3 linked regions of the Homo sapiens genome follow. The protein of the gene in region 2 purifies or fractionates together with the protein of the main gene of each other region. This does not show direct contact. Each region holds a gene or a part of one and is shown on either strand. Other genes may lie near its edges. The genes, in order: RRP15, RSF1 and WDR11.

Region 1 (3,654 bases), on a different chromosome or scaffold from region 2:
ATCCAGCCAAGAAATATGCTTTATATCAGTAACTGATCCAATCTCAAACAGTGTAGTACTTTCATAGTTATTCAGATGCAAACTCAAGCAAAATTTTTAAAAAGGAGTCTGTTTTTCCATAAATATGCAATCAACATGAAAACACACATTTTTAAAAGAAAGAAATATGTCAGGGTATTGATGGCATGGGGCAGGGTGTTCTAGAAACAAATTACTTTTAGAGCAAAATCACTTTGGCTTAAGTCTCAAGCAATTTTTGACCTTGTCCCAGACTTACAAATACTGTGATCACTGAAGTAGAAAAAAAGAAAGTCAAGGGCAAGTGCAAATGGTAAGAAAAAAATACAATGCCAGTGGAAAGAATCTGTTGTGTATTTTCATAACTCATGAAAGAAATAATCCCAAAGCAAAAGTATGTGCTTCTATAAAATGTTATTTTGAAACCAATAGGAAAAAGAAAAAAAACTAAGTCTCTTCATCTTCCCACTAGTTCTTTCCCATCCAATGTTGCTGAATCTTTCTCTAACTCTTACAGTAAAATGTTACTAGCGAGAATACAGCCTATTAAAGCCTTTGAACTAAAAAGTATAAATCCCCAAACACAGTGTTCATGTATTTACAAGTACTTCTGATAGACACTTTAAAATAGCAGCACTAGTGAGAACTATTATTATATAAAAATACAATTTGAGCCCTTTGATATTCAAGAAAGAGACAAGTAGATTCAAAAACTTTTGTCACTTAGGTAAAATATGAACTTAAGAAACTTTAAAAAATGCTCCAACCCTAGGCTAGCATAAAATTCCTAAATGCTCTTCTTGCTCGGGTTTCAATTATTTTCCCAAACAAAAAAATTTATGACAGAAATTCTCATTTCCTGACTGATTAAAAGTACCTTTGGTTTTGGCAACAGAAATCAAGCCATCAAAATATAACTACATATTTTGCTTTTTTAAAACGACAACAATAGAAACCCACCGCTTATAAAAGTAAAGCACATCTCAAAACCTTTCACCTGGTACATTAAAAAGAAATTACTGGCTGGGCTCGGTGGCTCACACCTGGAATCCCAGCACTTTGGAAGGCCGAGGCGAGTGGATCACCTGAGGTCAGAAGTTCAAGACCAGCCTGGTCAACATGGTGAAACCCCGTCTCTACTAAAAATACAAAAATTAGCCGGAGGTGATGGCATGTGCCTGTAAACCTGGCTACTCAGGAGGCTGAGGCAAGAGAATTGCTTGAACCTGGGAGGCGGAGGTTTCAGTGAGCCGAGATCGCGCCACTGCACTCCAGCCTGGGCCAGGGAGCAAGACTCCATCAAAAAAAAAAAAAAAAAAAAAAAAAAAAAGAAAGAAAGAAACTACTGAGGCAGCTGGAGAAGCAAAGTTCTCATGCCAAAGGTCATAGAAAGTATTTATGCTCTTAATCTCTCAACCAAACATCACTAAAGATGCCTCAATGCAAGAATGACTTTCTACCATTATTTCCTAAAACTCTCTGACTCTTCATATTTTGTAAGTTACACACCCTCTATGGGTAAAGTCTGAAATTAAAGCTGTGGCCCACACAGGCTTCTATTCTCCAAAATGTGCAAAATGGCAGGATTTCAGATAGGAGAGAGGCAAGCCCTATCTCTAAAGGTTGCGGGCATGGAGGAATTTTAATAAAATTTAGGAAAAAAACACAAAACTCTGTAATTCTATAGTCTGGTTTTCCATCTCAAGACTAGTTTTAGAGCTGAAAGTCTGATACACTGAATCCTATAGAAAAGTTTTTACCTGTTTGGCTTTTGGTTTCTTCCTGCTTGAAGCAGTCTCATTTGTACTTCCATCCATCCCTCTCAAAACACTGATGAAATCTTTCTTGGAAACAGTTGATATCAACTTAGCACGCTTTCTCATAGAACTTCCAGCTTCCTTAACCTTTTCATCAACATTCTTTTGATGTTTCTGAACAGCATTAAATAATTGCACCACACCCCTGTAGAATATAAAATGACCAGAATGATGTATTAAATAATTACCCTAGAATACAAACTCTGAGGATAGGAAAAATGTATTTTCACTGTCTAGAAAAGAGGCAAGCATTTAACAAGTACTCAAAGGAAAGAACGGGATAAGTGGTTAAATACATTTGATAAATACAACTGAAAAATGAATATACATTTCAATGAATGAATATAAATTTCTAAACAGATAACAAATGTGGATTGGTACATAACTTTGTGCTTCACTCCAAGAAAGATTTTTCTGGATCTCAATTTCATCTGTAAATTGGAAAAATAATGCCTCAGTAGCTTAAAAAGTATTTAGCTACGTTATCTGCAACTCTTGTGTTATGAAACCATTGTAAAATCCTACTTTAAAAAATACTTATTTTAAAAACTATGTTCTGTATTTATTTGAGTTCATTCAAAGATAAATTCTGAAAATTAAGACCTGCAGCATCCAATACAGGAGCCACAAGCCACATGTGGCTAGTGAGCACTTGAAATGTGACTGGTCTGAATTGCCATGTGCTGTAAATGAAAATACACCAGATTTCAAAGACTCAGTATGAAAAATAGAATCCTTAAATATCATTAATAACTGCTTCATACTGACCACATGATGAATATTTTGAATGCAGAGTTAAATAAAATATTATTGAAGTTAATTTCACCTCTTTCATTTTATATTTCTCATTGTGGCTATAAGAACATTTTAAATTACATATTAAATTACAAATGAATGTAGCTCACATTCATTTCTCCTGGATAGCGTTGATTTAGACTGTTAAGATCCCTTCCGGCTCTAAAATTCTGCAATCTATGAATTTTCTTGCTCTAATAAGAGGCAATCTGCCTCTTCCAATAATTATTGGGCCTTGAGCATCCCTGCATATGGTTGCTGGATTTTTCAAGAATGAATGCACCTGACTGCTCTTTATCCAGGCCATTTCTCAGGGTTGTGTTTGTAGGTAGTGACCTTGAGGGATGAGGTAACATCTCCCCCCGACAAAGAGCAGGCTTGTTACCAATCAGTATAAAAGTGATAGAATCCCAAGCACAGTGTTCCAGTTCTTGTAACACAACATATTGCACATGCGGGCATCCATCTAGGACACCTGCACTCCCTCTATGGGACAAAGGAAACAGTGGGAACATGAAGCTCTGCTACTGTTTTTGCCATGAATAATAAAGTCCTTTGTCTTTGATCCAAAGTGTCTTGTCTTCTATCAGCATCCAGGAAACTTTGACAGGCTAGCTTATGAGCTTATAAGGAGAGTAAAATTCCAGACCCTTCACAGTAGTGACAGGACCAGGGTGAGGAAAGGGAGGCGCCTAGGACATAAATTTTAAGGAGGCACTCACTCTCATGTACTGAGCCTGTACTTTTCTAAGTTCTGTATATGTATTAATCCATTTAATTATCAAAGAAACCCTATAGGCTAGGTATATTATCCTCTATTTACAGATAAACTGAGAGAAAAAGAAATCAAGTAGCATGCCCAGGGACACACTGCTAGTAAGAGCCAGTACTACGATTTGAACCGAGCACTGGCTCTATCACTCATGCCCTTATTCACCACACCACGCTATCGCACTGTGTAACACCGAGATGGATTAGAAAATGACCAAAATAATTTAGGTAACAAGAATTTAAAAGTAATTCT
Region 2 (4,368 bases):
CTTTACCTAGTTAATATTTTCCATCAGAATCACAAATACTCTGCTAGTTTGTTGGTAAAAAAGCAAGTTCAGTGTGAATTTTACTGTATTTCAAGAGTAAATAAAAACTGTCAAATCATTTGTAGCTGAGAAGCCTACTCAGGGTTGGAAGGACCGGTTAGTCATTTGGTTTAATCCATTTTTTAAGGCGTGGATCAATGTGTGGATGTTTGGTCTCCCAAACATCCCCTATTCCTAATAATTCACTTCCAAGCTTGTTTATTATTAGAGAACTAAGCTTCCTCCATAGAATGAATGGAAAACTTTTGCCCTATGGCTTCTGTCCTCTGGTCTAGTTCTGTGCTCTTATGGGACCACACAGAACAAGTCCACAGCCTCTATAATGTGTTAGTTCTCCAGAGGCTAAATATAGAAATCAATAATAGTTTTCTAATATCTATATTTGTCTAGTTGGCAAATAGCCTTAAAAATTATTTTAGGGAAACTGATGCACTTGCAAATTTACTTTCTAGATAGCGGGAGAACAATTCATCTAGGCCTGGGTGATAAATTTTAACCGTCATGAACTGTTACAGACAATTTGTTCCATGTGCCACAAAATTTAAAATAAGCTAAGTTTGCAAACACATCATGCTAAATAATTCAAATTTAAATTTTTATTATGACAATTGACATATTAAGTGAAAGAAATGACAGAAGTATTATAATAAAACATTTTGAAAGAAAAAGTTACACAATTAGGCCAATAGCTATAAAATGGCTTTAGGCCTGGCTTATAACACCAAGAGTTCTGATCAGACTGTAGTGAGACACTGAACATTTCATTAACAAAAATACTGGCACCAGCCACAACATATTTTGGTTGTCACTTACAAGGAATATTGTATTTAAACAACTATGCACTGCAATTCTAACACACTAGGTGTTCATACACTGAAGTTAACCCCTGAAGCTTTAAGCTACCAAGAATTCCCATACTTTTAATGCACAATTTACTTTGCGTGTTATCAGAATTACATTTCCAGTTTTCTGATCTTCCCTGCCCCCCCACCCCCACACACATGCAGTACATTATGTGACAGAGAGCACTCCAGCTTCTATTTGACTAACAGCATGGTCCTGATTACCTCAAGAGTTAGTTTTATGCCAATCTTGGAGCTTCTGCTTTAAATCTCATCTCCTAGAAACCAAATAAAACATTCTGAGAACCTATTCCAGGAATATTTTTTTTAACGCATAGGAAAATAAAGCATTTCATATAAGCATGTTGGAAAATTCAAGAGGCATTCTGATCAGTCCCTGAATTCCAGCTATTACTTTAAATCAAAATTCTAAAGATACCATTTATAAATTTTTATGTGGAATTTGTATTCTTCATATGGAAACTCATGATCTGCAGGCTTCCCTTCTGAATGAGGATAGCAAAAAACTGACGCTGGCAACACATGAATATAGCTTTGATTGAAATTATGACACACTTAGATGAATTTAATTATTTTCAAGAATACACTTGTACTACAAAGGTGAGAAATTAGAATGGCAAAATTATCAGATGGGAAAAAGTACTGACATTTAAACGAAGCTGTGAATATACCATGGTAAAATGTGCCATGTAAAAGACTGTGCTAGAATCAGAAGTTCTACAAGATTTCAAAATACTTAGTGAATAAGGAAGGAACTGAAACTTGAATTTGACTTCTCTTGCTGCCACGCTTCAGCAGACAACTATTCCTGTGGAATTAAGTCCACTGAATAACCAAATAGACCAATTCTAGTTTTTTCCTTCTTTTATATGAATAGATTAAAATCAAGCCCTGCTCTACCACCATCTTAGCATAGGACATACCCTTTCAAAGTGTACACACAACCTCATGGCAGGTTTGGGCAAGCTACAACAGATACCATCTCAAGAAGCTACTTTGAAAGAGAATAGAACACCAGACTAACATTGAGAATACCCTAGTTAGGCATCACAAAAATCATGTGCTGTAAGAATATGCTGTTAACAGCCAAATCTGGGCTACTGTAGCTGTTCTGATCCTGAAAATCCATTTACTAATATAAGCTAGATGTGTGTGTGTGTGTGTGTGTGTGTGCAATTTTCATGCAGTGACCTTAAAGCTTTGGAGACAGGGCTTGTTACTCTAATTTCAAGGCTTGTCCACATAGCAGTTGACATGCACCAATTCTGCTAAAGGGCAGGAGAATGAAAAAGACATGGCACAAATTTTTAAACAATTTTAGGTTTAATTACATAATGCACCTGTAGATGATCTAGCATAAACACAATTGTAAAAAATCTACATCCTATTTTAGGGTATTTTCCCACCTCCCATCCCTTAAAAGCTGTACAGTTATTTTTTTTAAAAAAAGGTGACTCTCAAGCAAAATAAACTTTTTTTTTTTTTTTGCAACATACAAAATAAGTTAAATGATTCAGAAGGTTTTGAGCCATGAAGTTCCCCAATAACTATGTTCTGGCTGTTCATGAGCATGACGTGCAAGCTGCTGGTCTATGACCAGAACTCAATAAATACAGATCAAACAAAACCGCAAAACACTTAAATTAGATTTCTTTAGAAACTGATGAAAGTCAAGAAAATATATACTTAGGATTAACAATTCCATTCTTAACTTACATCATCCAGTGGCAAAAAGCACGAGGCAAGTATTCAGTCCTTAGCACACTTTCTAACTTGTACCGGTTTGGCCAAAAAAGGAAAAAACAAAATTCCTTTAAAAATGTTTTTTTCTCATTCAAAATATCCAAGAAATTTTATAAATTTCTACTCATCTATTGTTATGCCCTCTTATATAACTTATGTATAGGATAGTCATATTTTAAAGTTATTAAAATAAACATCTTCACTAACTGAAACCATTATGATGTGCCAGAATTGGGTTTACTGAATTTTCCAAAGTGGTATAAATATGAAAGGAAAAAAAAAATTGTGCTCAGGTGTCCAAAAGGAGGAAAAAAGGTCCACAAATTGGATCCTCTTCTAATCGACTTCCAGGAGGGTTTGCATGAATGAATACAAAAAGTGGTGAGTGTATACTCTAAAGTGGTTATATACTAAGCTCATTACATTTTGGCTTATGACTGCTTGCTTGGCAATTACTCTCTTCAACATATTACAGTTACTTAGCAATTCTTGGCACTCAAAAGATGTTAAAAGATAATTTAAGTTGGAGCAAAACATTTTGAAAACAAATTAGTGAACATATAGCAACTCAGTTTAAATACATTGATAGCAAAAGGCTTTGACCTTAAGGATTGGTATAAAAATGACACAAAAAAATCAGTTAACTTGCCACTTCCAAGGTAGGTTTACAGGCACACACTTTGGGAAAGGTAGATGATATAGGAATGGATTTTAATCTGAGAAGATTCAATAATGGATCATATTAAGCAGAAGAGGGCTAGGTAGATTACAGCAGATATGCAGCCTTGGCATTCTCTGCTTCTTCGAGAATGAGGAATATATTTTGAGAATGTCAAACATCAGGAGAAACTGTTGTCTAGATTTTCTGTAATTAAATGATGTTCATAATATTTGTATCTGTTGCAATGCAGCCATCTTATTTCTTTCAAGTTAATGATGGATTCATTTTTATTTTTTCTGATACTTATCTGAAGTGTGTGCGTGTGCACACACACACACACATATACACATGTACCATTTAACTCTGGGTCTTTGAATAGTTGTTCTATAGCTGTGAGGCATCACCTTGAATAACGGGCCTGTTCCACTGTACTGGTAAAGAGCGGAGTTCCTAGCTTTTTCTGAATATTAAACTTGTAGATTCATTAGGTTCTTTACAGTTGTGTGGTAGAATCAGCAAAGGGTTAACATCTCTTATGCCCACAAACAAGCTAAAAAAGCATTCCTTGTGACAAAGGACACCCCACCAGTCCCACTTAAAAACAGCTAACATTTCCTCATCATTTTGACTATTAAACAAGTAAATGTCCATGTTTTTCTTAATATGTGTACTTTGCTCAAATGTATATTATAGGATGGGTTTCATCAACTAAAAAGTAAAAACTGGGTACGTGTAACACCCTTTTAAAATTAATTTGTTTAAAAATTATTTTTCAAAAGCTTCATTAGCATTTAAAGTTTTTGGTTCTTGGGCAGGTCACTTTTATATATAGATTGCCAGTAGACATGAATTTATTCTAAATGAAACTACCCTTTATCCTCTGAATCTGTAACCTTGACCAATTGAAAAAAGGATGTCAAGGAAATATAACTTGATGTACATTCTTGAAAATATCTCTGCCATCATTTTGCAGTAATGTGCCAATGATGGAAAATGTTTTACACTAATTTCATCAGCACTGATGTACAAAACCAAAACGTT
Region 3 (3,654 bases), on a different chromosome or scaffold from region 2:
GGATCACGAGGTCAGGAGATCGAGACCATCCTGGCTAACATGGTGAAATCCCGTCTCTACTAAAAAAATACAAAAAAATTAGCCGGGCGTGGTGGTGGGTGCCTGTAGTCCCAGCTACTCGGGTGGCTGAGGCAGGAGAATGGCATGAACCCGGGAGTCAGAGCTTGCAGTGAGCCGAGATTGCACCACTGCACTCCAGCCTGGGCGACAGAGCAAGACACCATCTCAACAAAACAAAACAAAAAGATTTCATTTCTTTTTTTTAATGAAATAACAAGATTTCATTCTTGGCTTATACCTGGATACTCTGCCTTTCAAGTCCCAGAAATTTAAATTTCCATCCATATCTCCAAGCACTAATGTATCACCTTTCCAAGCGATGCAGGTAATACTACCCATACTTCCCTAGAAAACAACAGCAACAAACAAATATAAATTTCACTATGCTGTATAAGACATTATAATAAATATTTTAATAAAACTTAATTTAAAGGGCTGTGCTTTAGTATGCTTTTAGTCATCAAATCCTAAAACAGACTTTAGACACTAACAAAGAGCTACATTGCCTATCAATTTCAACTATGAAGAAATAGGAGATTTCAACTTCATAGACATTAAGTAGTTACTGGAACTAGATTTAAAGAGAGGGGATGTCTTTTGAGGAACAAATACCTCAAAAAAAAAAGGGGGAAATTAAAGTAAGAAAAACAGAGAAGTAAAGGGAAGGTTTTCCAGAGAGCCAACTCAAACTTATCTCTCACTGCAAAAGGATAACTAAATCCATTCCAAGGGAAACTTAAAGCTCTTTTATAACTAATTGTGCCGTGATTTTTCTATTGAAAAAAGGATCCAGAGCTTCACTGACACGTTTTGGAACATTGTGGAATCATGAAGGTGAAGAGATGCTGTTTACTAAAGGCATATGCAGTTTAAATTCACAGAAAGCTTTGCTCAGAAGTTACATATAGAAGCACAACATAAGAATGAAATGCTGCTGTAGTCAATCTAACTTGGAGGAAGAAAGGAACTTGCAGTTCTAATAGATGCTCAGAGGTGGTATCATGGAGGGCTCAGCAGCCTGGGCTCTGCAGTCACACTGCCTGGGCTTGAATCCCAGCTTGAAACTGGTATGTGATTTGAGGCATGTTTACTTAACCTTTCTGTCTTGGATTTATTGTCCATAAAGTAGGGTAAGTTCATGAAACTTGAGTTGTTGCTAGTATTAATAAATTTATAAAGGCAAAGGCCTTAAAGCAATGCCTGCCATGCAGTAAATAGTCAATACATGTTAGCTATTAAATAATATTACTGCTCAATTACTTCTCTATTTATTAAAAGAAATTTTATTTTTGCATTTATTGTACAACATAAAAATTCAAATGGTATCCATGGTAAAAAGTAAGAAAACTCTAGTGGTTTGAATAATTGACCATTAGTGGACTAGCACACACACTGAATACCGTAAAAACTCTGGTAATAGTCAAGAAACAAAACAAAAACTGGATTTAAAAATCAATATTATAATAAAGTCCATTAATAAAAAAAAATATTAAAGAAATGAAATTCTGTATATAATATGAAGCAACATTTTAAGATATCTACTTTCCTAGCCATAAAATAGAATGTTTAATTAAGAAGTTGCCTTTGAAGAGACTTCTGAAACCAGGTCATAATAGACTCTGCAACTTCCTTCTTGCTTTATCAGATCACTTACTCTAGGGGAGGCCAGTTGTCATGTCGTGAGGACACTCAAGCAGCCTTATGGAAAGATCGACATGAAGAACTAAGGTCCCTCGTCAACAGCCAGCATTAATGTGCAATAGCCTGTGAGGCAGCCAACTTGGAAATAGATCCTTCTGTCCCATTACACTTCAAAAGACTGTAGCCACAGCCAACATCTAGATTGTAACTTTATGAGACCCCAAAGCCACCTATAAAATTATGGGGGTTGGCATTCTACTAGAGCATTCCATTTTTAGATAGCAATTTAAAATAAATATACCTATTTTAAAAAATCCCCTCATGCCTTCATTTAACCATTATAATAGCCTGCATTAATTAACATAAACATTTTCATGATCCATCTATTAAAAACTATCTATGAGATGCATGCTGACACAAATGATTAATGGCAAAACTTTAGTTACAGATTCCACAAGGCCATAAGAATATATGTAAGTTAGTAAATGTTAATAATACTATTACACTTACAACCTGATTACTATTATCCAAAAATAATACTAGATTGTAAGTCAAATCCTTCAGGGTAATGCCTGAAATGGAAAGAAGACAGATACTGAAGTCAGACAGGCCTGAGTTTAAAACACTGCTCTGCCATATGAGTAAGCTGGATAACTTTGGGAAAGTTACTTATTCTCCCACAGTTTTGTTATGGGTAAAATGGAGATAACTCCTCATGGATTATTACAGGGATAAAAATGAGTAGCACACAGTAAACATTTAATCAAAATAGTTACAGCGTTATTCTCTAGCAGTATGGAACAAGTTTAATCGATAATATCTCCTTAAATAAAGTTTATTTACATTAGGCTTTTCTGAAGTTTCCAACTTAACTATGCCTTCACTGGATATGGAACCAACAAAACAAAATCTTCTTGATGAAGATTTAATCAAGGTTGTACTCACATCTGGTGGAATCCGAGCACTGTCTTTTACTGAGTTTCCTTCAACAGTGAGATGATACACTTGGCCATCAATATCGGTAAATACAAAATGTTCCCGGGCAGAGATGTTCTGACTAAGTTCAGATTTACTTTCTGCCTCCTGCAGCAAGCTTTGGGATAGTGAAACATATGATAAAGATGTTTTTTTTTCCCCTAGAGTGATACTCATAATTAATTAACTTGCCCAAAGTACAGACGCATTAAGAGGAGGTCCAAAACTATTTTTTTAAAAGTCTGAAACTAATATTTGCCCAGCTAATTATGGGTAAACATGAATCACTCCTTAACAGCCACAACATCAGAGGAAGTTTACCCTGCACAGAGAGAAATGGTGATCTAAACTTAACACAAGAAAAATAAAATTCATAGAGATTTTGGCTATAGAACTGTGCTCAACAGAAGGGAGGCTGTACAGTGACCCAACATTATCTCTGAAGCCTTTTATCTGTAAGATTGGTATGGATGGGGATGATACACAAATTTAGGATTCCCAACACATTTTCTTTGGTGTGTATAAATGATAATATGATCTATCTGTATGTCTATGCTATGTTCATTTGAATTTCAGAAGCTGAAGTGTATGGAGTAGAAGGGCACTCGGAATGAGCACATTTACTACTAGATGCTGATGGGTGAATATTACTGCATATGTTATTAGTTATAACAAACAGTATAGTACAATACTAAAAATGATAAAATTATCTTTTTAGTAATCTGGGTATGTACTGAAAGATGAAACTAAGTATGTTCAAAAGCAGAGTCCAACTTGCTACCATAGACACCTTCCGATGATACTTGTCAACTTCCCAGACATGATGCTAATGGCACAAATGACAGTGTCAAGAAACACTGTACTGTACCTGATCACAGATGATTCAACAATACTCAGCTCTGTGTCTGAGACTACGGTCTGGCGGGCCATGGCCTCTCGAGTTGCAAGTTGCTTCTTTCTCAGGCTCTTCAAGTTGTG

Evidence for each region.
Region 1: the proteins of RSF1 (region 2) and RRP15 fractionate together in Homo sapiens (co-fractionation; one large-scale study listed by BioGRID). This does not show direct contact.
Region 3: the proteins of RSF1 (region 2) and WDR11 fractionate together in Homo sapiens (co-fractionation; one large-scale study listed by BioGRID). This does not show direct contact.

The regions. Positions count from the first base shown.
Region 1 is NC_000001.11:218,305,757-218,309,410, reverse strand, and holds part of RRP15 (RRP15-like protein), read right to left. Parts: intron 1,981-3,654; coding exon 1,779-1,980; intron 1-1,778.
Region 2 is NC_000011.10:77,659,368-77,663,735, forward strand, and holds the end of RSF1 (remodeling and spacing factor 1), read right to left. Parts: 3' UTR 642-4,368; downstream 1-641. UniProt on the Homo sapiens protein: Regulatory subunit of the ATP-dependent RSF-1 and RSF-5 ISWI chromatin-remodeling complexes, which form ordered nucleosome arrays on chromatin and facilitate access to DNA during DNA-templated processes such as DNA replication, transcription, and repair.
Region 3 is NC_000010.11:120,885,829-120,889,482, reverse strand, and holds part of WDR11 (WD repeat-containing protein 11), read right to left. Parts: coding exon 3,545-3,654; intron 2,795-3,544; coding exon 2,647-2,794; intron 406-2,646; coding exon 299-405; intron 1-298. UniProt on the Homo sapiens protein: Involved in the Hedgehog (Hh) signaling pathway, is essential for normal ciliogenesis.